Linked DNA regions of Homo sapiens. The protein of the gene in region 1 interacts with the protein of each later gene in a biochemical or structural test. Each region holds a gene or a part of one and is shown on either strand. Other genes may lie near its edges. The genes, in order: CSF3R and HCK.

The links.
Region 2: the proteins of CSF3R (region 1) and HCK form a complex in vitro, tested with the Homo sapiens proteins (one study listed by BioGRID).

What each region holds. Positions count from the first base shown.
Region 1 is NC_000001.11:36,471,775-36,487,153, forward strand, and holds the start of CSF3R (granulocyte colony-stimulating factor receptor isoform a precursor), read right to left. Parts: upstream 11,140-15,379; 5' UTR 11,037-11,139; intron 9,764-11,036; 5' UTR 9,704-9,763; intron 8,307-9,703; exon of another isoform or gene 8,213-8,306; intron 7,743-8,212; 5' UTR 7,723-7,742; coding exon 7,659-7,722; intron 3,900-7,658; coding exon 3,603-3,899; intron 2,114-3,602; coding exon 1,990-2,113; intron 1,849-1,989; coding exon 1,661-1,848; intron 913-1,660; coding exon 743-912; intron 618-742; coding exon 464-617; intron 366-463; coding exon 292-365; intron 1-291. UniProt on the Homo sapiens protein: Receptor for granulocyte colony-stimulating factor (CSF3), essential for granulocytic maturation. Plays a crucial role in the proliferation, differentiation and survival of cells along the neutrophilic lineage.
Region 2 is NC_000020.11:32,042,902-32,058,743, reverse strand, and holds the start of HCK (tyrosine-protein kinase HCK), read right to left. Parts: upstream 6,503-15,842; 5' UTR 6,320-6,502; coding exon 6,258-6,319; intron 4,529-6,257; exon of another isoform or gene 4,465-4,528; coding exon of another isoform or gene 4,463-4,464; intron 1-4,462. UniProt on the Homo sapiens protein: Non-receptor tyrosine-protein kinase found in hematopoietic cells that transmits signals from cell surface receptors and plays an important role in the regulation of innate immune responses, including neutrophil, monocyte, macrophage and mast cell functions, phagocytosis, cell survival and proliferation, cell adhesion and migration.

The DNA.
Region 1 (15,379 bases):
CCTCCCCTTTTCCCTCTGTTCCCTTGTGCTAGGTTCTAGGAAGGAGGGCAGGAAGAAACAAGTTGGTGGACACAGCAGGCTCTTAACTATTCACTGAACCACACTGTGACGTGCGTTACAGTCTGTCCAAAAGCTAACTCAGCTCCCTAGGCACATGCAAAGTGCATGCAAATCACATATAAATGCGTCCACGCCTCCCAGACCTGTTGGAGTCCTAAGCCCCGGTTTGTAGGGATCTGTTTGGACTGCGGGAGGTGTCGAGGTGGAGGGATGGCCTTCAGAGGGAGTCACCTTCCAGAACAGCTGCACTGTCCTGGGGTCCAGCTGCCTCTGCCGCCACCATGTGTCCAGTCTGACAGTGGGGGCTGTGGATGGAACAAGAAGAGGGGGTGCCAGTTGGGGAGGGGCCTGGGGCCTGGACTGGATACTGTTGGCTGCTCCCAGCCTCTCATCACCTCCTTACCCCGTTCGGTAGTTCTCAGCTCCAGGCTGGGGCTCCAGTCGCTCCAGTGGCCAGGCAGGGGCCAGCGGATGCAGCGTATCTGCAGGGTGTAGGCCGTGGCTGGGAGGAGCCCGCAGAGCTCATACTGAAGGGCCTCCAAGGGGAGGGGGCCCACCTGGTGAGGGGTGGACAGGACTCTGAGCCTTGGATCGCTGGGCCATTCTAGGGCCAGCTCGAGCCCGACTTACCCTGCCCCCTGCCCCCACCACCTCAGGCTCTCCAGGTTGCCCTCTGCCTCACCAGTGCCCAGCTGGCTTCTCCACGCTGCGGCTTGTGGCGCAGCTCACACTTCTGATTTATGTGCAGGCCTGGCTGCCATGGCTCCCAGCACAGCTGTAGGCAGCCTGCCTGGGGAGGGGCCGCTTCAGGGCTGGGGTCCATGGTCCGCAGCATGGGGGGCTCCAGTTTCACTGCAAGGAGTGGGGCTGTCAGAAGGTCTCCCTATCCCACCCTAGAGGGCTCTGCCTTAGCTCCCTCTTGTCTCCCTGTCTGTGGTTCACCATCTGTCCACGTTGCCAATGACACGTTTCTGTGGTTCGATCTCTATGTGTCTTTGTTTCTCTCTAGGTCTCTGTTTCCGCTCTTGCCCCAGGGCCTTTGCACTGGTTGTTACTTCTGCTTGAAATGTTTTCCCTCCAGATATCCAGCGGCTTGCTCCCTCATTTCCTTCAAGGATCTGCTCAATTGTCACCCTCTTAGTGAGGCCTTTCTTGACCAGCATATTAAAATAGCCAGTGCTCCCCTTCCCCCCTCTCTCTCTATGCCCTTCTCCTCCTTTAATTTCTCCTTTCTGCTTATTGCTATCTGAAATTCTATCTTATTTTCCCCCCCACTTGAATCTAACATTCTGAGGGCATTTTTGATGCTTTGTATCCCCAGTACCTAGAGCAGTGCCTAACATGTAGTGGGTGCTTTAGGAAACACGCTGAAAGCATGACTGAATGTGTCTCTTTGCCTCTGTGTCTCTTCCTGTCTCTGGGTCTGTGTCCCCATTTCTCTGTCTCCAGCTGCACCTTTCTTTGTCTCTGTCCCTCTTCTGTGCCTCTGTCTCTAGGTCTTCCAGTGTCTTCTTGTCTGTCGCTAGTTCTGTGTTTCCCTCTCCATTCCTCTCAGTGTCTGCCCATTTTGGGGATCCCCTCCCTCCCCTGCATCACCCACCAACATCCATGGGATCAAGACACAGTTGTGGGGACATGCTGGTCCCCAGCGCATTCTCTGCCTGCACCCAGATGCCCATATTCTGGTACAACAGCAGGTGTTTGCGTGGGATGCAGCAGTGGCTCTGCCCGTCCTTGGGCACGCAGTCCAGGATGGAGTCCCCTTGGGTCTGACAGTTGCCCCGGCTCCTGCCAATAGTCCAGGCTTGGGTGCCAAGCAGAGGAAGAAAGCGAGGCTCCCTTCTCCCTCCCAGAGGCATGCCCAGCATCCTACCCATGCCCTACCCCAGAATCCAAAGGGAGGGGACCAAGGTGGGGGCCCCTCCTCACTTGAAACTCTTCAGAGTGAAGCTGGTGGGTAGGTGGGTCTCAGGTCCTGGCTCCCACTGGCAGATGAGGCTGCTGGTTGTGAGGTTCATGAGGCAGGAGAGGTTGTGGGGTATGGCTGGAGGGTCTGCATGTGGGTGGGAAGAGTGTGAGGGCTTTGGGTGGGACCACTCAGAAAGCTTCCTCTGGGACCAGCTGGCCCTGTTGCCTTGCCCTGGCTTGGTTCCTCTGTTGTCACCTTGTCTGTCCCCCTGTCTCCAGGCAGAGTGGCTCTGGAAGGGCAGCCCTGGGGGAAGCTAAGTTGCAGGCATGCACCGGGGCAAGCATCACAGACTCCCAGCAGCCCAGTGGTGGCCCACTTCCAAGGCCCCCAACTCTAGACCCTTTGTCAGTGACAGTGTAGTGTTTGAGTTTTCATCCTGGTCCTGCCATTCATTAGCCCTGTGATCTTGAAGTTATTTAACTGCTCCATGCCTCAGCATCCTCATCTGTAAAATGGGGATAATGGTAAAATCCCACCCCCTAGCGTTATCACAAGGGCTAAATGACTCACTCTACATGAAGTGCTCAGAACAGTGCCTAACTTACAGGAAATGCTATGTAAGTGTTAGCAGTGGCCATTACTGGTGCTTTTTTTTTTTTTTTTTTTTTTTTTGAGACAGAGTCTCACTCTGTGGCCCAGGCTGGAGTGCAGTGGCGTGATCTCGGCTCACTCGGCTAATTTTTGTATTTTTAGTAGAGACGGGGTTTCCCCATGTTGGCCAGGCTGTTCTCAAACTCCTGACCTCAAATGATCCACCTACCTCAGGCTCCCAAAGTGCTGGGATTACAGGTGTGAGCCACTGCACCTGGCCCATTACTGATTCTTAAACAAGAACCTCGGTCTTTGTTTTTTCCTTATGCCTCAGCTTGGCACAAACTCCATCCTGCTCAGTTTGAAAGGAAGTTTGAAACTGGGGTGGGGGACAAGCCCAGCTGGTAGAGGATGTTCTCCCTGGAGACACCCTCAGATGGCTGAGGACTTGGGCTATGTAGAGTAGTGGTCACAACACTGGCTTTAGAGCCACACTGCCTCCATCCTTATTAATGTGTGATAAGGGCAAGTCACTTACCCTCCCTGAACCTCAGTTTCATCATCTGCAAAGTGAGGCTACATAGTAGTACCAACTGGTACTACTGTTACCTGATATCATGCCCATAAAGTGCTTATTAGATAAGAGCTCAATAGGTAGTACTCTTTTTTTTTTTTCTTCTTTTTTTTGAGACCAAGTTTCGCTTTTGTTGCCCAGGCTGGAGTGCAGTGGTGTGATCTCAGCTCATTGCAACCTCCGCTTCCTGGGTTCGAGCAGTTCTCCTGCCTCAGCCCCCCGAGTAGCTGGGATTACAGGCACCCGCCACTATGCCTGGCTAATTTTTTTGTATTTTTAGTAGAGGCGGGGTTTCGCCTTGCTGGCCAGGCTGATCATGAACTCCTGACCTCAGGTGATCCGCCTGCCTCGGCCTCCCAAAGTGCTGGGAATACAGGCGTGAGCCAACGTGCCCGGCTGGTAATATTCTTATTAGTATTGGCAGGAGGGTGTTGGAGGCAGAGTAGTTGGATGGCTGGAAGGACTTACAGCCTGCGCGCAGCTCAACCTGGTCCAGGATCTGCAGGCTGTTGCCCCAGTTCAGGCAGCAGGAGAGAAAGGCCTGAGTGTGGTTGAGGTGGGGCAGGGTGATGATAGATTCCTGGGTCCCATCAGACAGACGCTGCTGCCTGCCCCCGGGCTGAAGCTCTGCTCCCAGTCTCCACAGAATCTGTGGCTCCGGGTCCAGATGGCTGCAGTTCTGCTTGATGATGCAGGAGGCTGTGATGGGATCCCCCAGGTGGACGATGGGGGCTGAGACACTGATGTGCCCGCACTCCTCCAGACCTGGGGTGGAAGAGAATGGGCCAGGAACGACGCCTCTGCCTAGCAGAGCTGGGCTATAATCTAGGCCTTTGTACTCCTAGACTCAGAGGCCTCACCTTCCTGTCTCACCCTTCAAGATATGGGGGCTGGAAATGGAAGGATGGGGACGGAGACTTCGAGAGGCTACGGGGGTGACACAGAGATAGTGATGTGCTGGTAACCGTTTATCAGCCAGCTTGGCAGAGAAAAGCAGACCCTGGTTTGTAGTGTGTGCCTTTCCGCGGTGTAAGTGCTCTCACTGTAGCTGATTTCAGCCTATTGATGTGACATCATTGATCGGGGAGTTGGGAAGAGATGTGCACAATTAGTTTTTGCAAGCCAGCACCAGCACACCACCAGATGGAGACTGTTAACTCCCCAGTGCCCTCCCCAAGGATGGTGCAAGCAGTGATTAGAGTGATAAGAACCCATAGCCACAGCAATCTTTTCACAATTCAAATCTGATTCTGCTACCCCATCTCCATCGCAGCACTTCAATGGCACATTATTGCTCTGAAAGGCAGTGTGGTGTGATGGATGAGTGTGGATGTTGGAACTAGACTGCCTAGGTTTAAATTCTGGTTCTATTGCTTATTAATTACATGATCCTGGTATATTTCTAAGACTTCCTGTGCCTCAGTTTTCTCATCTGTAAAATGGGGATAAAAATCGTCCCTACCTTAGTGTTGCTGGAAGGATTACATGCGATAACATATGGAAGGCATTTAGAGCAGTGTCTGGCATGTGAGTATTTGCTGCCATCATTAGGATAAACACTCAAATCCTTCAATAGCTCCTGTGGCCTGGCCCCTGCCTGACCCTCTCAGTTCCAGCTTATACCGGTCTCTCAGCTCCAGCTATTCTGGCTCATTCTTGCTATTCTTTGAAAACTCCAAAATCTTTCTAATCTCTGGATCTTTGTCCCTGCTGTTTTTTTTTTTTTGTTGTTGTTGTTTTGTTTTGGTTTTCTTTTTCTTTTCTTTTTTTTCTTCAAGTTCTTGCTCTGTCACTCAGGCTGGAGTGCAGTGGCACGATCACGGCTCAGTGCACCCTTGACCTCCTAGGCTCAAGTGATCTTCCCACCTCAGCCTCCTGAGTAGCTGGGACTACAGGTTCATGCCAGCACACCTTGCTAATTTTTTGATTTTTTTTTTTTTTGGTAGAGATGGGGTTTCACTATGTTGCCTAGGCTAATCTTGAGCTCCTGGGCTCAAGCAATCCTCCTGCTTCAGCCTCCCAAAGTGCTGGGACTACAGATGTGAACCACTGTGCCCGGCATGCTGTTCTTTTTGGAGGGACTCTTCTTTCTCTCTCCCACCCCTGTTTCACCTGGTTAACGCTTAGGCATCTTGAAGAAACCAGACCAGGCACTAACGAACTGGAGGAGGCCAAGGTCCCTGTACTTCCTCAAAGCTCTTATTATCCTTCATAATTATAGAGTCTTATGATTATTTACTTATCTATCACTCCAGCTAGACTATAAATTCTGTGAGGCCAGCAGACCTTGGCTGTTTGCTTATTACTGTATTCCCAGTGCCTAGTACAGAGTAGGACCTTGGTGAATATTTATTATTATTATTATTTTGAGAAGGAGTTTCGCTCTGTCACCCAGGCTGGAGTGCTGTGGCACAATCTCGGCTCACTGCAACCTCCGCCTCCCAGGTTCAAGCGATTCTCCTGCCTCAGCCTCCCGAAAAGCTGGGGCTACAGGCACGCACCACCATGCCCGGCTAATTTTTTTTTGTATTTTTAGTAGAGATGGGTTTTCACCATGCTGGCAGGCTGGTCTCGATCTCCTGACCTCGTGATCCACCCGCCTCAGCCTCCCAAAGTGCTAGGATGACAGGCATGAGCCACTGCGCCCGGCCGATGAATTTTTTTTGATAAATAAATAAACAAACAAATCAACATACACTTTGCCCGCAATGCTTTCTGTCCTCTCTCAGGTGTTCTTAGGCCCGTTTTACTGATGGGGATGCGAAGGCCCTAAGAGGAGAAGCAGTTTGCCCAGGGTCACAGAGCAAGTTCATGATTCTCAACAAAGGGCTTCTACTGCTTCACAGGCTCAGGATTTCTTTTTTTTTTTTGAGACGGAGTCACTCTGCTGCCCAGGCTGGAGTGCAGTGGCGTGATCTCGGCTTACTGCAAGCGCCGCCTGCTGGGCTCACGCCATTGTCCTGCCTCAGCCTCCCGAGTAGCTAGGACTACAGGCACCCGGCACCATGCCCGGCTAATTTTTTGTATTTTTAGTAGATACAGGGTTTCACTGTGTTCACCAGGATGGTCTCGATCTCCTGACCTTGTGATCCACCCGCCTAGGCCTCCCAAAGTGCTGGGATTACAGGCGTGAGCCACCGCGCCCGGCCCAGACTCAGGATTTCAGGCTGGAAGAAACTTTACAAGGTTGTTTGCTTCAAAACTCTACCTGATGCTCTGCCCTCTACAGCAGGGCTTGAGTGGCCTATTTTTGTATAGCCTAACAACTAAAGATGTTTCTTACATTTTAAAAGAGTTAAAAACAAGCAAAGCAAAAACCAAATAAAAACATGCCACAGGGCTGGGCGCGGTGGTTCATGCCTGTAATCCCAGCACTTTGGGAGGCCGAGGTGAGTGGATCACCTGACGTCAGGAGTTTGAGACCAGCCTGGCCAACATGGTGAAACCCCATCTCTAGTAAAAATACAAAAATTTGCAGGGCCTGGTGGCAGGTGCCTGTAATCCCAGCTATTCGGGAGGCTGAGGCAGGAGAATCGCTTGAACCCGGCAGGCGGAGGTTGCAGTGAGCTGAGATCCCGCTACTGTACTTCAGCCTGGGCAAGAGAGTGAGACTCCATCTCAAAAAACAAAAAAACAAAAACCAAAAAACATGCAATAGGCAGGGCGTGGCGGGTCATGCTTGTAATCCCCATACTTTGGGAGGTCAGGGCAGGTGGATTGCTGGAACCCAGGAGTTTGAGACCAGCCTGGGCAACATGGCAAAACTACATCTCTACAAAAAAATACAACAACAAAAAAAAATTAGCTGGGTGTGGTGGCATGCCCTGCACTACCTTGGAGGCTGAGGCGGGAGGATCACTTGAGCCCAGGAGGTTGAGGCTGCAGTGAGCTGCGATTGTGCCACTGCACTCCAGCCTGGGCAACAGAGGGAGACCCTGTCTCACAAACGAACAAACAAACAAACAAACAAACAAACAAGGAACAGAGACAGTATGTGGCCTGCAAAGCCTAAACATTACTGTCAGAAAAAGTTTGCCAACCCCTGCTGCACAGCATCTTTATCAATCCTGGCTTTAGCTTGCATACCCCTGGGGATGGGAAGTTCTCTACCTCTCAAGACAGAGTTTCCATGGTTGGAAACCAAGCTCTGCCTGGGCTTCTTTATTTCAGGATGAAACCTGTCCCCTTGTAGCTTCCATCCTGATCCCTTTGCTGCCCACCAAGGCTGCATAGGACCCATGGGTTGCTTCTGACAGCTTGGTAGAGATTTGCGGACAAGATCTGCGCCTCACTGGCCTTTTCCAGGATGACCAGCCCGGGTCGTCTCACCATTCCTCTTGGGTGGTGGTTTGCCTGTGGAAGTCTGTGGGTGGGAGACCAGCTACCCCACATCTGTGGCTCAGACTTGAATCTTGTGGGATTCTCTGGGAATCCCAGGAGCCATGTGGCAGTGCAAGGAAATTCCCAATATCTCTCCTTGTAGCTTCCCCTCCCCACTGCACCCTCATCCTTGGCCATACTCACTTCCGGGGAGCAGCAGGATGATCAGGGCAGCCCAAGTCAGGCTGCAGTTTCCCAGCCTTGCCATAGCACCAACTTGATGTTCACCTGTAGGCAGAAGGGTTGTTTAAGACCATGGGCTTTGGAGTCAGAGCTGATCTTAATCCTTGTCTGTCACTGTGCAGCTTTGACTAGGTTGCTTGACTTCTCTGAGCCTTCGTTTCTTTGCAAAATGGAAGTAACAGCAGCCTATACTGCATGGGACTTTGAGAGGAAGACACAAAATGATGCAAGTCAAGGGCTTTTCACAGTGCCTGGAACATAGGAAATGACAGTGACAGCCACAGTTATTATACTTGCCTTCCAGGAAAGAGCAGGGAAAGGAGCAGTGAGGAAGAGCATTCTTCCGCCTTCCCAGCTATCTAAGCTAGGCTACCCCTAGAGAGCAGAACCTGAGATGAGGAATTGCATGCTGGTAGTTTATTTTGAGAAGATCCTAGCAGCAGATAAGGGACTGGGGAGAATGAAACAGGGAAGGAGAGAAAGCCAGCACAAAGTTACATCATCATGTTGGTCACCTCTATGGACAACTGGGGCTCTATCCTGCTGGAACCTTCCAAAGAGCCATGTAGAACACTTCTCAGAGCTGTCCACTGGAGGGTCAATTTATCCCTTGGATGGGAGGGAAGATGGAAAGATTTACCCACTGACTCCTGCCCCCCATTGGTCAAGGGATGCCTCTTGGGGTGTTCATTCCCTGGCACATCCAGGTTGGGCATGCATGAGTACTAGGCAGGTTCTCCTGGGGAAGCCATGCCAGTGTTGTCAGGGACACTCCCTGGAAGAAAGGGAGAACTCTATGGAGCAGCTGAGGCAAGGGGCTGTCAGGTTATGCCTGCAGGAAGCTGGCTGCCTCAGCCATGTGGGCTGAGAGAATATCAAGTGGGGCACCCGAAGGGTCCAGTGTGCCCCCAATTTTGGGCACAGACCTCTGGTGGCCTTCTGGGGTCAGGCATCATGAGGTCACGGCCATAGCACCTGGATGGAGGGTGCCTTGGCTCCAGTCTTAGGAAGTATGCAGAGGTTTCTACCACTTGGGTGGGTGTCCAGCCTCATCTTCACCCTGCTCCCATTGGGGTCTTGGAGCCAACACCTGATCCTCCAGCACGAGTTGGTGCTCTTGGTGGCAGATCAGTGGGAATCGCTGGTCAGCTTGCACGTACATATCTGGACACATACACGCAGGTGGTGTCCCAGCAGATCCCTCGTGCTCAGCAGGGAGAAAGGTAGGAGAATCCTTTTCTCTTCCTCCCAGACAGAGGTGTGGATAAGAACTGCCCAGATACCCAAGGTTGTTACTGCTCACAGGGGTCTTACCCAAACCCCCAGTCTATCCATGTATATATTGCAGTATCGGAATACCCAGTGACTGCTAGCCCGTAAGTCTCCTTTGTGCAAATCAGAAAGAAAGCACCCCTTCCTCTGGATGGATGCAGCACCACACTAGGACCTGGCAACTAGGGAACAGCCTGGATTTCGGCTCCAGTTACTCCTCAGTTTTGTGCAGTGAGAAACCTGTACAAGTATCCCGAGCATCTGTCTACCCATCGGTGGTTGGTAACCTTCTTACTATAGCATACCAGTTTGATTATCCCCCCGCAACACTGGTTGGGGAAGATTTAGCCTCCAAGGCCCAGATTTTGGGACACTGGTTTTCATCTCCATGTGCTTTTGATCCTATCCCAGCCCTGTTGCCCTAGCCAGGGTCAGCTTCAGGCCCAGCCTATGCCCCGTGCAGTACCACCCTATCCGCCTCCACTGGCTCCTGTCCAGAGTAGACAACCTAACCCCAAGAGGCCCCGGCATCCTTCCCCTGGGTGCTGGGTGTTGGCCTGCTTGGCCTCAGTCTCTGGTCCTCCACTGCAGCCCTGGACGTCCCCCAGCCTGGTTAAGTGGGCCTAGGACCTGTTGGAGCATGGTCTCACTCTCTGGGGGGCCGATATGCAGAGAGGTTTGGAGCCCAGCTCAGATTCAGGTCACCTGACTTGATCTCCAGCTCCGCCACTTACCAGCTTTGTGATCTTGGACAAGTTACTTCACCTTTCCGAGCCGAGCCTCAGTTTCCCCATCTGTGGGAAAGAAATAACATTAGCACTCACTCCTCAGCGTTGTTGTGAGGATGAAATGAGATTATTTTGGTAAAGGCATTTAGCCCTGTGCCTTGCATGGAGTTGGCACTCAGCAACCATAGGTTATTTTCACGAGCCATAAATAGCAGGTCAGCAGCTCACAGAATCCAGCACAGTTCAGTTTTCCCCTCACCCCTGCCTCCCTCACAGCCTGTGTGGTCACACCTCCCAGGACTGCCACCTTGCTTTTGTCTGTGCCACACTGCGCAGTTCCAAAGCCCCCTTTCTGGATCCTCTCCTCCTAACTCCTGGGCCCCCTGGCCCTCCTGTCACTGCGGCCATCTCTGCTGGGCTCTGCAGGTGCTCACTCCTGTGGCCCAGCACAGCTCGATGTCTCCTGGGCTGGCTGCCTTCACATTCCCTCTTTCTGTTTCTCCCTCATCACGCTCAGCCCTCTCCCCTCACACTCTCTTCCCCACTTCACACCCCTCGCTCCCTTGCTGTTTCTACTCTCACCTCGAGATTCTTTCTGTGGGAAGGGTGGGGAGGGAGGAGGGGGCTGGGAATAAACAGAGGGGAGAGGCATTTCCAGATATGCTGCAGATAAAGAAAAAGAGAGAGCAACAGGAAGAGTGACAGAGTGAGGCGGTGACTGAAATCCACACAGACTGAAACGACAGAGAGACTCGCCAAGAGGACGATTGAGGCCAGAGAGATATCGAGAGACAGAGAAAAAGGGCCCAATGTACGCCGACCCAGAGAGTGGGCGGGGGGGGGGCACTCGGAGGCCTGGAGCCCGGGAAGCGTCTGTTACCGAGAGTTTAAGATTCAAGAGATAGCAGGAAATATGCGAGACAGAGAAACTCAGAGAGATAGCAAGCCAGAGAGAAGCTGAGGAGGAAAGATGGAAACAGAGAGTGAAATAGAGACCCAGACGGGGAGGGGTTGCGCGGCTGGAACTCACAGACACACACGTCCTGAGAGACAGAGGCATGGGGAGGGGAGAATGATTATGCCTGTCCCCAGCCCAGCTCAGTGTCCCCAAGGAGATACTTGGCTGTGAGTGACTTCCCTGGTGCAATACCCCCAAAAGTAGGGGCATCCTGTGAAAAGAGACTCAGTGTCCAGGGCTGGGGTTCCAAAGGACGAATCCCGGGCCCCAGGCCTAGGACCCCGGACATGAACACTTGGCAGAGCTGTGGGGAGTGGCCCCAGGATTCCAGCTCTCCATCAAGCCCAAGGCTCAGCCCCTCTCTAGGGATCCCCTACTCACGTTGGCACCTCTGGCCCAGCCCCTGCTTGGCCTCCTTGGTCTCTCTTCTCGTCAAGAGAAGTTCCTGAAACCAGCTGCAGTCCAGCTTCTCTCCCCGAGCTCTGTCGTTAATGGCTCAGCCTCTGACAGGCCCGGGGGCTGGGGATTGCAACACCTTCCGAGCCTCCCTCCTGCCCTCCCTTGCGCCTTCGAGGGCACAGGCAGCCCCTTCCTCCCAGGAAGGAGCCTGTGAGGGAAGCTGGTGAGGCCCGGGCAGCCTTCCTGCCTTGGGGGTCTTAAAGGGCTGGGGAATGTGGCAACGATGTCCCCCTCCCCTGCCTCCGGATTTCCTGAGCTCAAAGCTTTGAGGCTGGGCAGGGCCCAGGCTCCCACCTGGCTGGGTGCCATCCTTATGCCCCCTGCCCTGGGGGAGCATCACTTGGAGGCAGGCCCTGGCTGGAAGGCTCACCCGGCCCTAAGCCTCTTTTCAGCTCTAGCCTTGGGGACCACATCTTCACAGTACTCAGAAGGGTGTGTTCCAGGTTCCAGGGAATTGTGTAACCCAATACTCACTGCTCCCCTCTTCATTACGTATTCTGTGCATTGCCCATAGACCAGGCAGATGGAGAAACAGGAATTCTGGGGGCAAGACAGGAGGACGTCTTGGTGAGGCACGGGGTCTTTATATGTTCACTAAAAATTAGGAATGTTTACCCACAATGGTTCTGCAACACTGAATATTTTGTAATTGAGTGAAATAGACTACATTTTATGTCTTTTATTGTCTGTATTCATGATTCTTCTAAAACTACAAATAATTTTCTTTGCATTTTCTGAGAAAGGTTCAAACTGCTCATAGTTTATTGGATTCATAACCCAAAAAAGGTTAGGTGCCAACAGACCAGCAGACTGTCCTTAACATATAATCCTTTTGAGGCATCTGGGTCTGGTGTGATGCTGCAGACCAGGGCTGTAGTTCTAGTTCCAAGTCAAATGACCTGACTGCCTGCTGCAACCCTCCCAAGATATCCCACAGGCTCTGCTCGCTCAGTGAGTCCCATGGACTCTCTTCTTTCCAAATATAACCAGAATCCTGGGTATTCACTGTAAAGTTCAACTTGGCTCTACGTTTGAATATTTTTATGATAATATTTGGAAAATATAAATATAACTGAAACCAATACTAGCCAGCTCCAAGCTACCCTCATCTATTGCCTAGATAATCGCAATAGCCCCCTGCCTGCTCTCCTGCTTCTATTTCATCCTTGTTCCCGCACCTGTCTGTAATTCCTTCAGCAGCCAGTGCGATATCAATCAAACAGAAGTCTGATCAGCCCATCCTCGTCCCAACCTTTCCAATGGCTCCTGTCTCATTCAGAGTCAAAGTCAAAGCCCTTTGGATGGTCTACAAGGCCCTACAAAACCTGGTATCCCTGTTACCTCCTGGATCCCTCTCCTGTTATTCTCCCCCTTGCTGCCTTGCTCCAGCTACTCTGTGTTCTTTGCTTCTTGAACTTGTTATGCTGTCTCTTGCCTCAGGGCCTTTGCACTTGCTGTTTCATTTGCCTGGACTCTTTCCCCCGCAAATAGCTACATGGGCTGGTCCCTCCCCTTCTTCAGGTCTTTGCTCAAATGTCACTTTCTCATTGAGGCCTTCTCTGAGCACCCTTTTCAAAATTTGCAAGCCCCTTCCCTCCCACTCCCTATCTCTCTCTCCCCCAAATCCCTTTTCACCATCTGATATTGGCTGTCTCAATCCCCACTAGACTGAAAGTTCCATAAGAGCAACAGTTTTTATCTGTTTTGTTCAAAACTTTATCTCCAGTGTCTATAACACTGCTTGCCACACAGTAAGGCCTCCATGCGTGTTTGTTGAATGAATGATCAACTGGATGAATCTTCCCCCACTTCACCAAATCTGTCTCTAATCCCCACGTACCTTGTCATGGTGAATTAACCACCATCCCCTCCTCTCCCTAGTCATGCAGCTCAGGGACTCAGGAGTCATTCCTTACAACCCTTTCTCCACATTCCCATGTCCAGTCAGTTCTTTTAGTTCTTTTTTTTCTTTCTTTCTTTTTTTTTTTTTGAGACAGAGTCTCACTTTGTCACCCAGGCTGGAATGCAGTGGCGCGATTTTGGATCACTGCAACCTCTGACTCCCAGGTTCAAGTGATTCTCCTGCCTCAGCCTCCCAAGTAGCTGGAATTACAAATGCCTGCCATCATGCCTGGCTAATTTTTGTATTTTCAGTAGAGATTGGGTTTCACCATGTTGGCCAGGCTGGTCTTGAACTGCTGACCTCAAGTGATCCGCCCACCTCAGCCTCCCAAAGTGCTGGTTTTATAGGCGTGAACCACCGCACCTGGCCTTCTGGTCATTTTAAATTTATTTTTTATTTTTATTTTCATTCTTTTTTTTTGAGATGGAGTCTCGCTCTGCCACCCAGGCTAGAGTGCAGTGGCGCGATCTCGGCTCACTGCAACCTCTGCCTCCCAGGTTCAAGTGATTCTCCTGCCTCAGCCTTCTGAGTAGCTGGGACTACAGGCACGCACCACCACGCCCGACTAATTTTTTTGTATTTTTAGTAGAGACAGGGTTTTGCCATGTTGGCCAGGCTGGTCTCGAACTCCTAGCCTCAAGTGATCTGCCTGCCTCGGCTTCCCGAAGTGTTGGGATTACAGGCATGAGTCACCGCGCCTGGCCCCAGTCAGTTCTTAATGAAGGAGAATGGGCCTTTTGTTCATCATTCAGAGAACTTGCTCCTGGAGCAGGTGCAGGGACACAATGGTGAGACACAGTTTTAGTTCCTGCCTTTATGGAGCTCCCGTCTCAGCCTTGCCAATGGCCCTGCAATCCTTCTCCTCTCCCTGTCTTTCTTCAGAGGCCCGTCGTCACATCCTAACTCCTGAACCGGACATGCAAGTTACCCTCGCCTCCCTCTCCTGCCTCACCAGCCCCTGCTTCCTCAGATCCAGCCCGTCATGCTCCGGTCATGCCAAATTCACTAGTATTTCCCTGCCTGCCCCAGGCTCTGGAACAACCCTGTGCCTTTCTTCTGCGGAGCGCCTGTCACCTCCTGCTGGCTGAGTCCTGTTCCTGACCCAGTTCAAGCATCCAGCCTGAGCTCAGCATCCCTCTGGGCTTCCACACCTTAGTCAAGCTGAATTAGGGGCCCTTCTCCCCATTCATCCTGTAATACTGTAGTAGGCTGTTGGCCGCCTGCCTCCTCCATTATACTGTGAACTCTTTGAGGGCAGAAACTGTATTCTCACCTCTGCCTCTCTAGCCTCAGTACAGTGCCGGACACACAGAGGATACTCAATGCATATCTGTTGGGCTGCAGAACCTTGGAGATGGTGTTTACCTCTTCCAAGCCTCTGTTTCCTAATCTGTCACAGTGATAATAACTCCTCCCAGGGATTTTGTGATAATTAAATTAGCTATCAGAAATACAATGCCTAGTATGGTAACCAGCGCATAGTAGGTGTTCAATAAAGTTGCTTTCCTTTGTTCCCTTCTGCATAATTCAATATTTAGGAGGGAGATTCTACTATTCTCCTTTGTGCTCCATTCTCTGTTGAGGACCTGCACCAGGAAATGGAGCTGCAGCAGCCAGAATAAAAGTTAGATTTAAGGAAATGAAAGTTAGATTTAAGGAAGAGCTTTCTTTAGAGTGTACTGAGGTTAAGATGATGAGCTGAGGAGTCAGGCTGCTTCAATTTGCCACTTGCTGCCTGTGTGACTCCAAACAAATGTTTAATCTCTTTAAGCCTCGGTTTTGTCATCTGTAAAATGGGGCTAACAGTATTGGCTTCATAGGATTCTTGAGAGAAATCAGTGACCGTAAGGCTTGTGGAACACAGCCAGGAACACAGTAAATGCTTAATAAGTGTTTACTATGGTGCACTGAAGAGCACAAGACAGACGAGGAGTCATCCCCTCTACCCGCACCCAGTGTCGGCTTTGTGGATACTTCCTCTTCCAGCTGTCCTGCCTCCCGCCCCTCCTCCATCAGACAAGGCCTCTGTGTGTTGGAAACCCTGGGTAAGGGAGTGCTGGTGAGGGAACCCTATTCTTGGCAGCCTAGCTACTGAGCCCCGAGTTGTTTCTGTTTCTGTTACTGCCTGTGATGTGTGGGGCTTCTGGGTAGGTCAAGGAGCAGCTTGTTTCAGAGGGGCCGGGGCGGGGTCCAGGTGGGCAAGCTGGGGTGAGTGCCCGGAAGTTGAGGCTGTGGTGCTCAGCTGCCAGGGCCGGGGTTGGCTGGAATACAGCAGGCAGCTAAGATTGTGCAAACAGGTCATTGTGCAAACGCGCCCCTGTGTGTGACCTCGATTGTGCAAACAGGTGTTTACTGGAGGCTG
Region 2 (15,842 bases), on another chromosome or scaffold:
TGGAATCAGCTCTCAAACTATTTGCATTTGAAACCTTGCCTAGGGTCTGCTTCTGGAGAAACTCAAACTAAGACATATACGCCATGATGGACTAGTGTGTGTATGTGTGTGTGTGTGTGTGTGTGTGTGTGTGTGTGTTTTGACATAAAAGGAATTGTGCTGCAGGAATCATGAGTAGTATCCTCCTCAGTTCTCCCCCTTTTTTTTTTTTTTGACAGAGTCTTGCTGTTGTCAGCCCAGGCTGGAGTGCAGTGGCAAGACCTTGGCTCACTGCAACCGTGCCTCCCGGGTTCCAGCAATTCTCCTGCCTCGGCTTCCCAAGTAGCTGAAATTACAGGCGCCCGCCACCACGCCCGGCTAATTTTTGCATTTTTAGTAGAGACGGGGTTTCACCATGTTGGCCAGGCTGGTCTTGAACTCCTGACCTCAGGTGATCCACCTGCTTTGTCCTCCCAAAGTGCTGGGATTACAGGTGTGAGCCACCGTGCCCAGCCTCAGTTCCATTTTTTTTTTGGATTTGGGAACTGAGGCTCAGAAAGGGAAGAGATTTGCCTAGTGCATCACAACCTGTCTTTGGCAGAGCTGGCACTCAGACTCGGGGTCGTCTACTGTACTGTACCCACTGTTCTTCATTTCTATGGTAGAGATGAGGCTGGGATTCCTGTTCTCTTGGCTGCACTTACATCTCCTGGGCCAAAGGATTTCAGGGTGATGCCTGGAACTCAGGGAGGTGACTCGAAGGGAGAGTCAGGAGCGCACGTCCTAGCGCAGTGCCATCCAGAGGATGCAGCATGTGGGACCACAGCCGGGGCCAAGACCAGGGCACATTTACACTTAAGCACAGGCTGCTTCTGCATCATTACCCACGCCTCTGAAAGTACCTTCAAACTCCCAGTCCTGTGGGGGAGGAAACTGGAGAAATGGGGTGGGGACCAACATGTGGTTGGTGCATGTGGTGGGGTTTGTTTAGAAAGGCAGAAGTGATTGCTTGATGACTTGTGGTATAAAAAAAGAAAAATAAACAACAACAAAAAGATGTAAGAAAGAAAGAGGCTGAGAGAGATTGTGCTACTAACTTGCTGTGTGACTTTGGGAAAGTCAATTACCCTCTCTAGGCTTCACATTCCTTTTCTTTTCTTTTTATGAGACAGGGTCTTGCTCTGTCACCCAGGCTGGAGTACAGTGGTGCAGTCTCAGATCACTGCAACCTTCACCTTCTGTGCTCAGACGATCCTCCCACCTCAGCCTCCTGAGTAGCTGGTACTACAGCCATGTGCCACCACACCCAGCTAATTTTTGTACTTTTTGTAGAGACAGGGTTTTGCCATGTTACCCAGGCTGGTCTCGAACTCCTGAGCTCAGATGATCTGCCTGTCTCGGCCTCCCAAAGTGCTGGGATTACAGGGTGAGCCACCGCACCCAGCCCTTCATGTTCCTTTTCTATAAAAAAGGAAGCCTTGTCATGACCCGAAGGGTGGGGTTTGAAAACTCAAATGACTATAGGGATGTGGAGGGTTCTGCGGATGAGGAAAGTGGGCCTGGCAAGGGCTGTGCAAGCTGGACAGCCCAGGTGTAGCCCCCAGGGCAGCCCCCAGCTCCACTGAGGTTGTCTGAAGAGCACTGGAGTCGTGGGTTCTAGTCTCAGGGCTGCTAACTCTTCTAATGTTTTAGGAGACAGAAATCCAGATTATGTGAGCTCTCCTGAGTTTAAATGTTAGCAACTAATTAAAAATAATCGCTGCGGGTGGAGGGGTGTTCGGGGAGGGCAGCTGAAATATCTCAGGCAAGGGAGGGAGGAGGTTGTCCAACATTCATTGCGTTTGTCCCATCAGTGTTTTTTTGAGGCCCTACTATGTGCCAGGTGCCAGGTGTTAGAAGATACAGTGGTTTATAGGACAAACATGTTTGTGCTCTTGTAGAATTTACTTTCTAGAAGAGTTTAAAGTCCAAGCCCTGGCTAGTCCTTAGAATGTAGACAACTTTCTCCTTACTTTCTGAGGTAAGAGCCCTCAGAGGGCAGCCTGGTTTGAATGAGATTAAGATTCGTGCTTTCTGTACCCATTAGAATGGTAATAATAATACTAATAAAATATAAACATAGTAGGCATTGGCAAGGATGTGAAGCCAATTGAAACCCTTGTATATTACGGTGGGAATGTAAAATGGTGGAAAACAGCATAGCAGTTCCTCAAAAAGTTAAAGATAGAACTACTGTTTTTTTTTTTTCTGAGAAGGAGTCTCGCTCTGTCGCCCAGGCTAGAGTGCAGTGGCTCGATCTCGGCTCACTGCAAGCTCCGCCTCCCGGGTTCATGCCATTCTCCTGCCTCAGCCTCCCGAGTAGCTGGGACTACAGGCGCCCACCACAATGCCCGGCTAATTTTTTTGTATTTTTTTAGTAGAGACGAGGTTTCACCGTGTTAACCGGGATGATCTCCATCTCCTGACCTCGTGATCCGCCCGCCTCAGCCTCCCAGAGTGCTGGGATTACAGGCGTGAGCCACCGCACCCGGCCACAGAGATAGAACTTTTATATGACCCAGTAACTCTACTTCAGGTATATACCCAAAGGAATTGAAAACAGGTGCTCAAACAAATACATGTATGCACATGCATGCTCATAGCAGTATTATTTTCAATGGTCAAAATGTGGAAACAACCTGAATTTCCATCTGTGGATAAATGGGTAAATAAACTGTGGAATATCCATACAATGGAATATTATTTGGCCACAAAGGGAATAAAGTACTAATAGTTGCCACCATGTGGATGAACCTTGGAAAACATTATGTTAAGTGGAAGAAGCTAGACACAGAAAGTCACATAGTATGCTTCTATTTATGTTAAATATCCTGAATAAATTAGTCCGTAGAGGCAAAAAGCAGATTGGTGGTTGCCAGGGGCCGGGGGAATGGGGGGTAATTGCTTAATGGGTACAAAGTTTCCTTTTTCAGGGGTGATGGAAATGTTTAGGAGCTACTGACAGGTAGTGTTTGTACAACATTGTGAATATACCAAATACCACTGAATTGTTCGCTTTAAAAATCATATAGTTAATTTTATAAAGTTATGTGAATTTCACCTCGATTAAAATATTTCTAAAAATTTTGAACTATATAAAAGATTGCTCTGCTAGAAAGGTTAAGCAAATTATAATACAGGCAAACAGTGGAATATTATGCAGCCACTAAAAATTTAAGAACATTTTAATGACCTGGAAAATGCTACAATGTAATACTAAGCAAATAAATAGGATAAAAATAATCTATGTGTAGCATTATACTAATTATGTTAATTTAAAAGTGCATAGAAAAGACTACATAAAGATACATGAAAATATTGGTTATTGTTCCCTCAAAAGGTTCATGCTTCCATTTTCTTGAACACTTATTAAGTGCCAGGCATAGTGAGTAAGGCAAGTGAAGTGCCTTACAGCAGAGAACATGAGGCCTGAAAGAAAGGCCATTGATCCAGAGACGGCTGGGAGATCAGCAGAGCAACATTCTTCTCTCTTCTCTGCCCCAGAGTCCCTGGTGACCCTTCTGGGCTACAGTACTCCTCTCACACAAAGGGGAGTGTGACAGGTGCCCTCTCTGGGGAGCCATCCAGCCTTTTGGTGTTTTCCTCAAGAACCACCTGTACATGGGCCGAAAGCTACACATCCAGGATGCTCCTGTCAATATTGTTCGTTGTAGTGAACGCCTAGGAACAACTTGAGTATTTATCCACAGGGGAAAGAGAAATACTGTAGAGTCGTTACCTGCTGGGATACTCCACAGCAGCTGGAAGGAATGAATGAGGCCTCTATTTTCTATTTCTCATCCTGGGTAGATTTTGACAACTTAATGATAAGATGGGGCAAATATGCTCCTCTGCTATCCCCATTGTCAGAATTGCAGAAAAGTCTCACAATTAGATAGTTTTTTGTTTTGTTTTGTTTTGAGACGGAGTCTCGCTCTGTGGCCCAGGCTAGAGTGCAGTGGCACGATCTCGGCTCACTGCAAGCTCCACCTCCAGGGTTCACGCCATTCTCCTGCCTCAGCCTCCCCAGTAGCTGGGACTACAGGCGCCCGCCACCATGCCCGGCTAATTTTTTGTATTTTTAGTAGAGACGGGGTTTCCCCGTGTTAGCCAGGATGGTCTCGATCTCCTGACCTCGTGATCCGCCCGGCTCAGCCTCCCAAAGTGCTGGGATTACAGGCGTGAGCCCCCGCGTCCGGGCTTTTTTTTTTTTTTTTTTTTTTTTTTTTTTTTTTTTTTTTTTTTTTTTTAGGTGGAGTTTCGCTTTTGTTGTCCAGGCTGGAGTGCAATGGCGCGATCTCGGCTCACTGCGACTTCTGCTTCCCCGGGTTCAAGCGATTCTCCTGCCTCAGCCTCCCGAGTAGCTGGGATTACAGGCATGAACCACTGCATAGATAGCATTTTTAAAGCACACAAAACAATCCTACGTGTTGTTTATGCGTACATTTATATGCAATCCATTTTCAGAGGCACATCCTGGAAGGACTGTAACTCATGACAGCGGTTGCCCCTGGGGAGGGAGAGAAACAGGACTGAGAGTGATACAAGGTGGGGAGACTTCAATTTTTTCTGTTACTTTTAGTAAATTAATTTTTTAAAATCTCAAAACAAACACAACAAAATGCTATTATTTGTTAATTCTGGATGGTGGATTCTCGGGACATCTAATATATTATTATCTTCACTTTTCTGTATTTTAACCTGTCACCCCCTCCCCTAAAAAAAAAAGGACCATAAAGAGAAAACCATGGGATAAGGCAACTGATAGGCATTGAGGCCTTTCTCTGTGCCAGGCATAGGCTACCCCAGTGGTTCTCAAAGTGTCCTCCTTGGATCAGCAGCAGCAGCATCACCGGGGATGGAAGTTCTCATTGTCCTGCACAGAGCTACTGAATCAGAAACTCTAGGATTCGGCCCAGCAATCTGTTTTCACAAGCAGTCCAGGTGATGCTGATGTAGGCTAAAGTCTGAGAACACGGGGCCATATGTCTAGCTAGGGCAATGTTAACATACATTAAGCCTGTGTACTGTCAGACAGCATTCTCAAAGCTTTCCTTCAGTAACTTTTTTTTTTTTTTTTTTTTTTTTGAGACAGAGTCTCTCTCTGTCGCCCAGGCTGGAGTGCAGTGGCGCGATCTCGGCTCACCGCAACCTCCACCTCCCAGGTTCAAGTGATTCTCGTGCCTCAGCCTCCCGAGTAGCTGGGATTAAAGGTGTGTGCTACTACGCCCGGCTAATTTTTGTACTTTTAGTAGAGACGGGGTTTCACCATGTTGGCCAGGCTGGTCTCAAACTCTAGACCTCAAGAGATCCACCTGCCTCGGCCTCCCAAAAAGCTGAGATTACAGGCGTGTGCCACCCTGCCCGGCCCCTTCAGTACCCAATTAATCCTCTAAACAACCCTGTGAAGGAGGTACTATTACTCTCCCCATCCTGCAGTTGTGAAAACAGAGGCAAAGAAAGGCCAAATCCTCTACCCCAGCCCCAACAGGCAGTTTGCCCCTAGAAGCCCCCTCCGCTACCCACTAGCCTGTCTCTCACACGCACCACCTCTCGCATACTCCAATTTCCTGCATCCTTGCAAGAAAGACTTCATAGCCCCGTTTTACAGATGAGGAAACGAATTCGGAGGCGGAGAATTCGTCCAAGGAGGAAAGAGACAGGGCATGCATGCAGTGTGGTCTGGGGCCAGGAGGTTTGGGGGTTTGACCTAGACCTGTTGTGGGAGGAGGGGCAGAGAGCCGACCAGCTGCAGCCGGCCTGGGTGTGGCTCGCACGTCACGCCTCCGCCCAACTACCCCCTTCCCCAAGCTGGCTGCCAACCCGGCGTGACCCGGCCCCCACCGGGAACCGTAAGGGCCTTCCCCTTCCCGGGTTCTGTGAAGCCCCATCCCTTCCTTCTTTTTCTTTTTTAAATTAAAAAAAAAATCCCCGCCCCCCCCCAAGAAGGGGAACCTGGACGGCCCAGAGAAGTGGTGGATAAAGTCACTGCACGGGCCCGAGCGTCCCCTTCCCCGGGAATCCAGCAGTCCGCAACAGTGCCGCCCCTCCCTAGGGCACCCTCCACTCGCTGTCGACCCCTCATCCCCCGGGCTACCCGCGGCTCCCCCGACGTTCCGTCTCCCCTCGCTGCCCCCAGCCGCACCCGTAGCCAGCCCTCCCCAGGCTCCTGGGCTCCCTCCGCCTCCTGGGACCCCTCGCGGGCCGGGTATTCCCGGTCCCCTGTGCGCGGCACTCACCTGGGCGCCCGCTCCTCGTCTCGCGGGCAGCCCGGATCCTCGCAGCTTGAGCGCCCCCCCAGCTCGGCAGCCCCTGAGGTTCCGGGGTGCCAGTGCCGGGAAACTGACTTTCTAGAACTAGAGGCGGGGGCGACGCTCTGAGGGGCTTTGGTGCCGCGGGCGTTTCTCGTCCTGCACTGTCTGAGTCCCTTCCCACTCGCCTCTAAGCCTCTGATGTGCTCCCGAGCTGGGACCAGGGACGTGGTGGCGCCCGCAGGCCATCTGGGCGCCTTAGCCGCGCCCTGAGCGAGGCTAACTCCGCCCCAAGTGTCCTAACACCTCCCCGAAGATTCAGACGCCACCCCAGGATCCTAACCGGCTCCCCGAGGGTCATAACCTCCGTCTCCTGCAAGAAGGATCCCAAACCCTCCACGAAGAGAAAAAAAATATTAGCACCATCCATAGGAGGCTTCTAACGCGTCCACCAAGGATGCGAACCCCCATCCCTTCCGCTCCACTTTCCCTAACACCTCCCCATCCCACCGCCCAGCGTCCTACCCCAGTCTCCAAAGGATCCCAAATCCCACTCCTAGGGATTCGAACCCGCCCGTCTAAGAACCCCAGCACCCGCTCCAAGGCTCCCAAGATACTAACCCCGCCCCGCCAAAGGATTTTTAATCCCACCTCTGAAGGATTTTTAAACTCAACTTGCCCCCAAAGATTCTAATCTGCCCAGTGGAAGGATCCGAACTCTCACTTCAGTGGATTCTAACCCTGCCCTAAGATTTAGAACACAAACCCCAGGGTTCCAATACCGCTCCTGCTCCTGCGCGATCTAACCTCCCGCCGCCTAAGAGTTTTAATACCCAGGGGTCTATACCGCCGGTCCAAAGATTCCAACCCTGCCCTTCAGAGATCCTAACCCCACCTATCAAGGGATTCCTGCCACAGTCTTCAAAGATTCCAACCCACCCTGGAAAGGCCTTACCCTACCCCGGAAGCATCGTGATCTCTTTTCCCCACCACTCCGACCCCTCCCTTCTGGCCCGGCCCTCCCCAACTCCGCGGCCCGAGACTTCCAGGCAGGTCTGTGGTCAGCGGTTTCTCTTCCGCAGGCCTGCTCCATTCAGACACCATGCAAAGTTCCTCTCTCGAAGGAACCACCATGGCCATGCAAAGTTCCCTGCCCGAAGGAACCACCCTGGCTTCCTGGCAGCTCAGAGGACTCCCAAGCTGGGGGAGGTGGTCGGGGGAGGGGAGGAGTCGGGCTGGAGGGTGACTGAGGCCCCAAGTGGATGGGATTGTGCCCAGCTCCAGGCAAGGGCAGAACACACCCTCTCCTGGAAAAGACAGGGGCTATCACCCTAAATGCTGTGTAACACACCTCCAAAATCTCCAAAACTACAAGAATTCTACCGCGTCTCTCTATTCCCGTTGCTACCAGCTGATCAGGACCACAGTCATTTCTTCATTCATTCATTCATAATTCATTCAGCAAAGCTGTCCTGGGGGCTGGGGAATGCAGGGGTTCTTAAATTTGGCACTATTGACATTTGGGCCAGGTAATTCTTTGTTGCGGGGGACTGTCCTGTGAATGATAGGATGTTTAACAGCATTCCTGGGCTCTACCCACTAGTTGTCTATAGCATCCTCCTCCCTAGTTGTGACAACAAAATGTCTCCAGACATTTGTAAAATGTCCCCTGGTGGGGAAGGGGGGAAGAACCATGAATGAGAAAGACAATGACCCTACTCTTATGTTTTTGGTATATGTACCTGTATGGGCCTTTTTTCCTTCTCTTTAGCCTACAGTGCTAACTATTTTGAGGGGGTCTCCCATCCAAGTACTAACCAGGCTTGATCCTGCTTAGCTTCCAAGATCAGACAAGATCAGATGTGTTCGGTGTGGTATGGCATAGACAACTTAAAAAAAAATAGAGATGGGGTCTTGCTGTATTGCCCAGGCTAGTCTTGAACTCCGGGGCTCAACTGAACCTCCTGCCTTGGCCTCCCAAAGTACTGGGATTATAGGTGTGAGTCATTGCACCTAGTCTGTATGTGCTTTTTATAAAAACAGATAATGTTCTGAATGTATGTTTAATGTTACTTATTCACTTTTGTACATTCCCTCCCGCCACCCCCATCACTGTTGTTAATATCCAGCCATGTTGCCAAAGGTAGCGGCTGTACGTGTAGTCACTGTTTACATCCTTCACATTTTATTTATCCATTCTCCTAGTCATGGACACCTAGATTGCACACAATTTCCCACTAGTGTAAATAGTGCCACAGTGGACATCCTCATACACGTCCCCTTATCGTCCTACATTAGAATTTTGTTAAGTACTTGCTTTGCCAAGAATGACAGGTGTTTGCAGAATCGCCACTGCCCCACTCTTTCTCCCATCATTTCCCCTTATCTTTACCAACCCTTGGTATTATCCACTGGTCTTAATTTGAGTTCCCCAGAAGCAGACCCTGGACATGGATCCAAGTGAAAATAGTTTATTTAGGAGATGCAGAAGACACTGGTAGGGGAGTAGGTGGATGAGACAGGGAAGGGAGGGAAGCCAGTAAAAAGGAATATCATGAAGCCAGTTACCATTGTGGGCAACTGGAGTTCAATTCTGCAGGGATCTCTGGAGATATACCCACTTCAGGGTTACTCCACCTGTCAGGCGAGGGAGCTGGGGCATTTACACACCAACTCCTGTTGGACACCGGATGAGGGGTACTCCAGGGGTACTGACCTTCCAGCATTTTGGCCTCCCTGGTGCATGCTTCAGCCACCAGAGGGTCTCCAGGAAGAGAAGTGCAGCTCTTACTTAAGGCCCAGGGGGCATCGGAGGGTCCGCATTAGCATCAGCTACATCTCCTTTCAAAAGTTTGCCATTCTGATAGTAAAGAGCCAGAGAGCTGACACATGTTCCTGTTCATGGACAGTTTCCCAAATGTTTTGTCCTGACAGTAATGCTGTAATTGAAATCCTTGTGTATGTTCCCAAAGCTTCTGTCAACTTTATCGTGACATAATTTCGTGAATAAAATCTACCATCATAAATATTCAGCTTGATGAGTTTTGGCAAATATATATACCTGTGTAACCACCACCCCAATCAAGATATAGAACATTTCTATCACCCCAAAAAGTTCCCTTATGTCCTATTGCAGTCAACTCCTCCCACACTTAGGTAGCCTTAGGTAAGCACCAATTGGCTTTTTGCCATTATACATTAGCTTTGTCTTTTCTAGAATTTCTCATAAATGCAGTCATACAGTATGTTTCTTTTGTGTTTGTCTTCTTTTACTCAGAGATTTTCCATGTTGTTGCATGTTCCAGTAGTTCGTTCATTTTTACTGCTGAGTAGTATTCCATAGTATAGATGTAACACTATTTGTTTATCCATTTATTTGTTGAGAGACATTTGGGTTGTTTTCAATTTGGGGCTATATAAATAAAGCTGCTATAAATATTTATGTACAAGTTTTTGTGTAGGCATATTTTTATTTCTCTCGGGTAAATACTTAGGATTGGAATTGCTGGGTCATATAGCAAGTGTGTGTCTAACTTGCAATAAATTGCTGAATTGTTTTTCTTTTTTTTTTTTTTTTGAGGCAGGGTCTTGCTCTGTCACCCAGGCTGGAGTGCAATGGCGAGATCTTGGCTCATTTTAACCTCTGTCTCCTGAGCTCAAGTGATCCTCCCACCTCAGCCTCTGAGTAGCTGGGACTACAGGTACACCACCATGCCCAGCTTATTTTTTTTTTTTTTGTAGAGATACAGTCTCACCGTGTTGCCCAGGCTGGTCTTGAACTCCTGTGCTCAAGCCATCTGCCTGCCTCAGCCTCCCAAAGTGCTGGGATTACAGGTGTGAGCCTTTGTGCCTGGTCTAAATTGGTTTTTGAAGTGGTTACACCATTTTGCATTCCCTCCAGTGATTTATGATTTCCAATTGCTCCACATCCTTGCCAACATTTGGCATTATCATTCTTTTCAATTAAAAAAAGTTCCCATCTAACCCATATTTGCACCAAATAACATTTATACAATTACAAATTGTATTCTAAAACACCCCCTTACCAGTCTTTGGGGGTGGCAAACATTTTGTCTACTCAATTATTCATTCATTCATTGTCATGGAGACTATAGCTGACCACAAAAGTGGTGCTAAGGGCCAGGTGTGGTGGCTTACACCTGTAATCCCAGGACATTGGGAGGCCAAGGTGGGCAGATCACCTGAGGTCAGGAGTTCGAGACCAGCCTGGCCAACATGGTGAAACTCCGTCTCTACTAAAAATACAAAAATTAGCCGGGTGTGGTAGTGGGTGCCTGTAATCCCAGCTACTTGGGAGGCTGAGGCAGGAGAATTGCTTGAACCTGGGAGACGGAGGCTGCAGACAGCCGAGATCGTACCACTGTACTCCAGCCTGGGGGACAAAGCAAAACTCCTCAAAAAAAAACAAAAACAAAAACAAAAACAAAAACAAAAGACTGGTGCTAAATGCTCCATCGTAGGAGTCCAACTAGAGTTCAAACCTGGCACTGCTGTTATCAACTGGGTAATGTTGTACAAAGAGGTGACTTGATTGTCACCTCTTTGAGTCTCAGTTTCCTCATCTGTCAAGTCGGAATAATACTACTACTTACCTCAGTGGGTCATTTTGAGAATGAAATATAAGTAAAGTGCTTAGGTTTGCTATATATAGATGGTCAATTTCATTAGTACAGCCTAATCATTAAGATTTCAAACTGCTGCTTAGGCACTGATTCAAGTATAATTTGGAAATCACCTTTGTCACTCTGCCTTGTTCCAAAGATAAAAGAAGGAGCATATGACTTTAAAAAGGAGACATTGCCCTGTGGGTAGTGGACCCTTTTCAACATGGAATAAAAGGAACTCTGAAATGAGGGTGGACTTTGCTGTGACTGAAGTCTGGAGAACCAAGTGAGTCCTGGGGCAGGAGGCCAATTCTAGATCAGGAGTAACAAGGCCCAGATTCTAGTGCTCCTTCCACCTCTAGACGTGTAGCCTTGAGCAAGCCATTTGATGTCTCTGATTCTCTCATTTGGTCAACAAACATAATAATGGGCACATACTGGGTAATGAGTCTTGAGTGTTAGGGAACACAACAGAGAATGAGGGAGCCGAAATCCCTGGCCTCATGGCATTTTCCACTTACTGGAGGGCATTGGACAAATGGTTGCACCAATAAGGGCAGGTTGGAATTTTGCAACAAGCACTATCAAGGGGTGGGGCTCCATGCAGGGGCTTTGACAGGTTAACAGGGGAAGGTAGGGAAGCCTCCCCAGAACAGGTAATATCTTTTTTTTTTTTTTTTTTTTTTTTTGGAGACAGATTCTCACTCTGTTGCCCAGGCTGGAGTGCAGAGGCGCAATCTCAGCTCACTGTGACCTCCGCCTCCCAGGTTCAAGTGATTCTCCTGCCTCAGCCTCCCGAGTAGCTGGGATTACAGGTGCCTGACACCACACCTGGCTAGTTTTTGTATTTTTAGTAGAGACAGGGTTTCACCATGTTGGCCAGACTGGTCTCGAACTCCTGACCTCAGGTAATCCACCGACCTCAGCCTCCCAAAGTGCTGGGATTACAGGCATGAGAAACCGTGCCCTGCCAATAAATTCTTATTGTTTCAAGCCTTTAAGCTTCGGGGTAGTTTATTATGCAATCTTGATAACCAATACAATACACAAAAGCCTCAAGGAAAGTAGGTGCTTTGTGTGTCTGAAGAACCCCATTGTGTCTAGCAGAGGAGGGAGACCCAAGGTGAGGTCCATGAAATTGGCCAGGCCACTCAGGACCTTGCAGGCCTCTGTGAGGAGCATAGGTTTTATTCTAACATACATGGGACGCTATTGGATGGTTATAAACAGGGGAGTGGCATGATAATTCATTCACTCAACAAATATTTATGGAGCACCTACTATGTGCCATGTGCTATTATTGATGCTGAGGATACAGTAATAAACAAAATTAATTCCTTCCTATGTGCTTAGAATTTACATTATTGAGGGGAAGATGGATAATAAACAGATACTGAAAACTCATCCCATGTTTGGGAATGATATGGGTTATAAGAAAACTAGGGAGGTCAAGGGGAGAGGTAGTGGGATGGAGAGGAGCGATGGTGTAACTTGAGACAGGGTGGTCAGAGAAGGCTTCTCTGAGGAGGTGGCATGTGAGCAAGACCTTTTGAATTGGAGAGATAAGTCATGTGATAATCTGGAGGAATTGTGTTCCAAGCAGAAGCACCAGTAACAGCAAAGGTCCTGAGAGGCAACAGCACGTGGTGTGTTTAGGGAATACAAAGAGCCCATTGTGGCTGGAACACAGAGGGTGCAGACAAGAGTGGTGGAGACAGTGTTGGAGAGGTAGTAAGTGGGGTCATATTGTGAAGGCCACAGACATCTTGGTATCGATATTAAATTTTAATTGACACAAGATGGGAGCTGTTGGAGGGTTTTGTTTGTTTGTTTTGAGACAGAGTCTCACTCTGTCGCCCAGGGTGTACAGTGGCACGATCTCGGCTCACTGCAACCTCCACCGCCTAGGTTTAAGTGATTCTCCTGCCTCAGCCTCCCAGGTATCTGGGACTACAGGCGCCCGCCACCACGCTTGGCTAATTTTTGTATTTTTACTAGAGATGGGGTTTTGCCATGTTAGCCAGGCTGGTCTCGAACTCCTGACCTCAGGTGGTCCACCTGCCTCAGCCTCCCAAAAGTGCTGGGATTACAGGTGTGAACCACTGTGCCCAGCCCTGTTGGAGGGTTTTGAACAGAGGAGTGAGCCAAACTGGCTTATCTTTTCACAGGATCTGTCTGGCTGCTGGGTAGAGAATGAATTGGAGGGGCAAAGGGAAAGGAGGGAAACCAGTGAGCAGGGAGAGAGTCATCCAAGGGCAAGATGATGGGAGCTTGGGTCAGAGTGGTAGCAGCTGACGACTAAAGGAGCTCAGAGAGAGAAAACATCAGAATGCCTAAAAGAATTCATAGTATGTACAGGAGAATCATCGCAGCACTTCTTTTACTAGGAAAAGACAGAAAATAACCTAAATGCCCATGATTTGGGACGTGGGAAAATAAATCTTAATAAAATAATTGAATACTAAGCAGTTGTCAAAAATAATAAGGATATATAACAACCAACTGTACCTGGGCACGGTGGTGAAACCCTGTCTTTACTAAAAGTACAAAAATTAGCTGGGTGTGGTGGCGGGCGCCTGTAATCCCAGCTACTCAGGAGGCTGAGGCAGGAGAATCACTTGAACCCGGGAGGTGGAGGTTGCAGTGAGCCGAGATTGCGCCATTGCACTCCAGCCTGGGCCACAAGAGCGAAACACTGTATTTAAAAAAAAATGTATCTCTATACACTAGTAATAAACAATCTGAACATGAAATTAAGAAAACAATTTTATTTATAATATCACCAGAAGAATAAAATACTTAGGAATAAATTTAACAAAAGTAGTACAATATACTCTGAAAGCAAGAAAACATCCTTGAAAGAAACTTAAGACCTAAATAAAATCATCCCATGGGTTGAGAGAGACATCTCATGTTCATGGATTGGAAAACTTAATAGTGTTGATGATAGTACTCCCCAAACTGATCAATACTATCCCTATCAAAACCCCAGTTGCCTTTTTTTTGGGGGGGGGTGGCAGGAATAAACAAGTTGGTCCTAAAATTCATATGGAAATGCAAGGGACCTAGAACAGCCAAAATAATCTTGAAAAGAACAACAAAGTTGCAGAACTAACACTTCCTGATTTCCAAAACTTACTACAAAGTTACAGTAATCAAGACAGTGTGGTATTGGCATAAGAATAGAAATATAGGTCAATGGGACAGAATTGAGAGTTGAGAAATGAACCCTCACATTTAAGGCCAATTGATTTTCAAAAAGAGTGCCAAAACAATTCAATAATGGAAGAAAACAGTATTTTCAACAAATGGTGCTAGAACAACTCAATATTCACGTGCAAAAGAATGAAGTTGGATCCCAAAATGGATCGTAGATCTAAGTGTATGAACAAAAACTATAAAACTCTTTGTGTGTGTGTGTGTGTGTGTGTGTGTGTGTGTGTGTGTGATGGGGTTTCACTTTGTCACCCAGTTGGAGTGCAGTGGCGCGATCTTGGCCACTACAACCTCCACTTCCCAGGCTCAAGTGATCCTCCCACCTCAGCCTCCTGAGCAGTTGGGATCACAGGCGCACACCACCACTCCGGCTAATTTTTTGTATTTTTGGTAGAGAAGGGGTTTCGCTATGTTACCCATGCTGTAAAACTCTTAGAAGAAAACACAGAAGTAAATTTTCATGACCTTGGGCTAGGCAAATTCTTCTTAGATGTGATACAAGTGACAAAAGGAAAAAATAGATAAATTGGACTTCACTGAAATTGAAAACTTGTGCTGCAAGTGATACTATCCTGAAAATGTAAAGACAACCCACAGAATGGGAGGAAATATTTGCAAATCACAGATCTGAAAAGGGACTGGGGTCCTGAATATATACATAGGATGGCTCAATAATTTAAAAATCCACAACTTAAAAGTGGGCAAGAGATCTGAATAGATAGTTCTCCAAAGAAGCTATACAAATGGCCAATAAGCACATGGAAAGGTGCTTAATATCATTAGTTATTAGAGAAATGCAAATCAATTCCACAATGAGATTCCACTTCACATCCATTAGAACTGCTATAATTTAAAAAGACAGATAATAACAATTGTTGCTGAGAATATGGAGAGATTCCACCTCATACAATGATGGTGGAAATGTAAAAGGAGCAGCTGCTTTGGGAAACAGTCTGGCAGTTCATCAAAAAGTTACACATAGAATTACCTTATGACCCAGCAATCCCACGCCCAGGTATATACCCAAGAAATCTGAAAATATATGTCTACACAAAGATCTGTACATAAAATCTTCATACCAGCATTATTCATAACAGCCAAACAGTGGAAACAACTTCAATGTCCCTCAATGGATAAATGTGGCATATCCACCCAATGAAATATTATTTGGCAATAAAGAGGTATGAAGTACTGATACAGGCTATGATATGGACGGACCTTGAAAACATTATGCTAAATGAAAACAGCTGATCATAAAATACCACATATTATAAAATTCAATTTATATGAAAGGTCCAGAACAGGCAAATCTATAGAAACAGAAAAGAGGTTGGGCACAGTGGCATATGCCTGTAGTCCCAGCCACTCTGGAGGCTGAGGTAGGAGGATCACTTGAACCCAGGAGTTCAAGACCAGCTTGGGCATCATGCTGAGACCTCCATCTCTACTTAAAAGAAAAAGAAAGGAGATTATTGGTTGCATTGGGCTGGGAGCTGAGGAGAAATAAGAAGTGACTGCTAATAGGTACAGGGTGGTTTTGGTGGGTGGGTAATGAAAATGTTCTAAAATTGATTGTGGTGACAGTTGCACAACATTTGAACATACTAAAAACCATTGCATTGTAAAAGTTAAACAGGTGAATTGTATAGTACGTAAATTTATAATTCAATAAAAATGCTTTTTACAAAAGAAGGAGGAAGCCCCTTATGTACTAATAGAGAACAATGCAAAA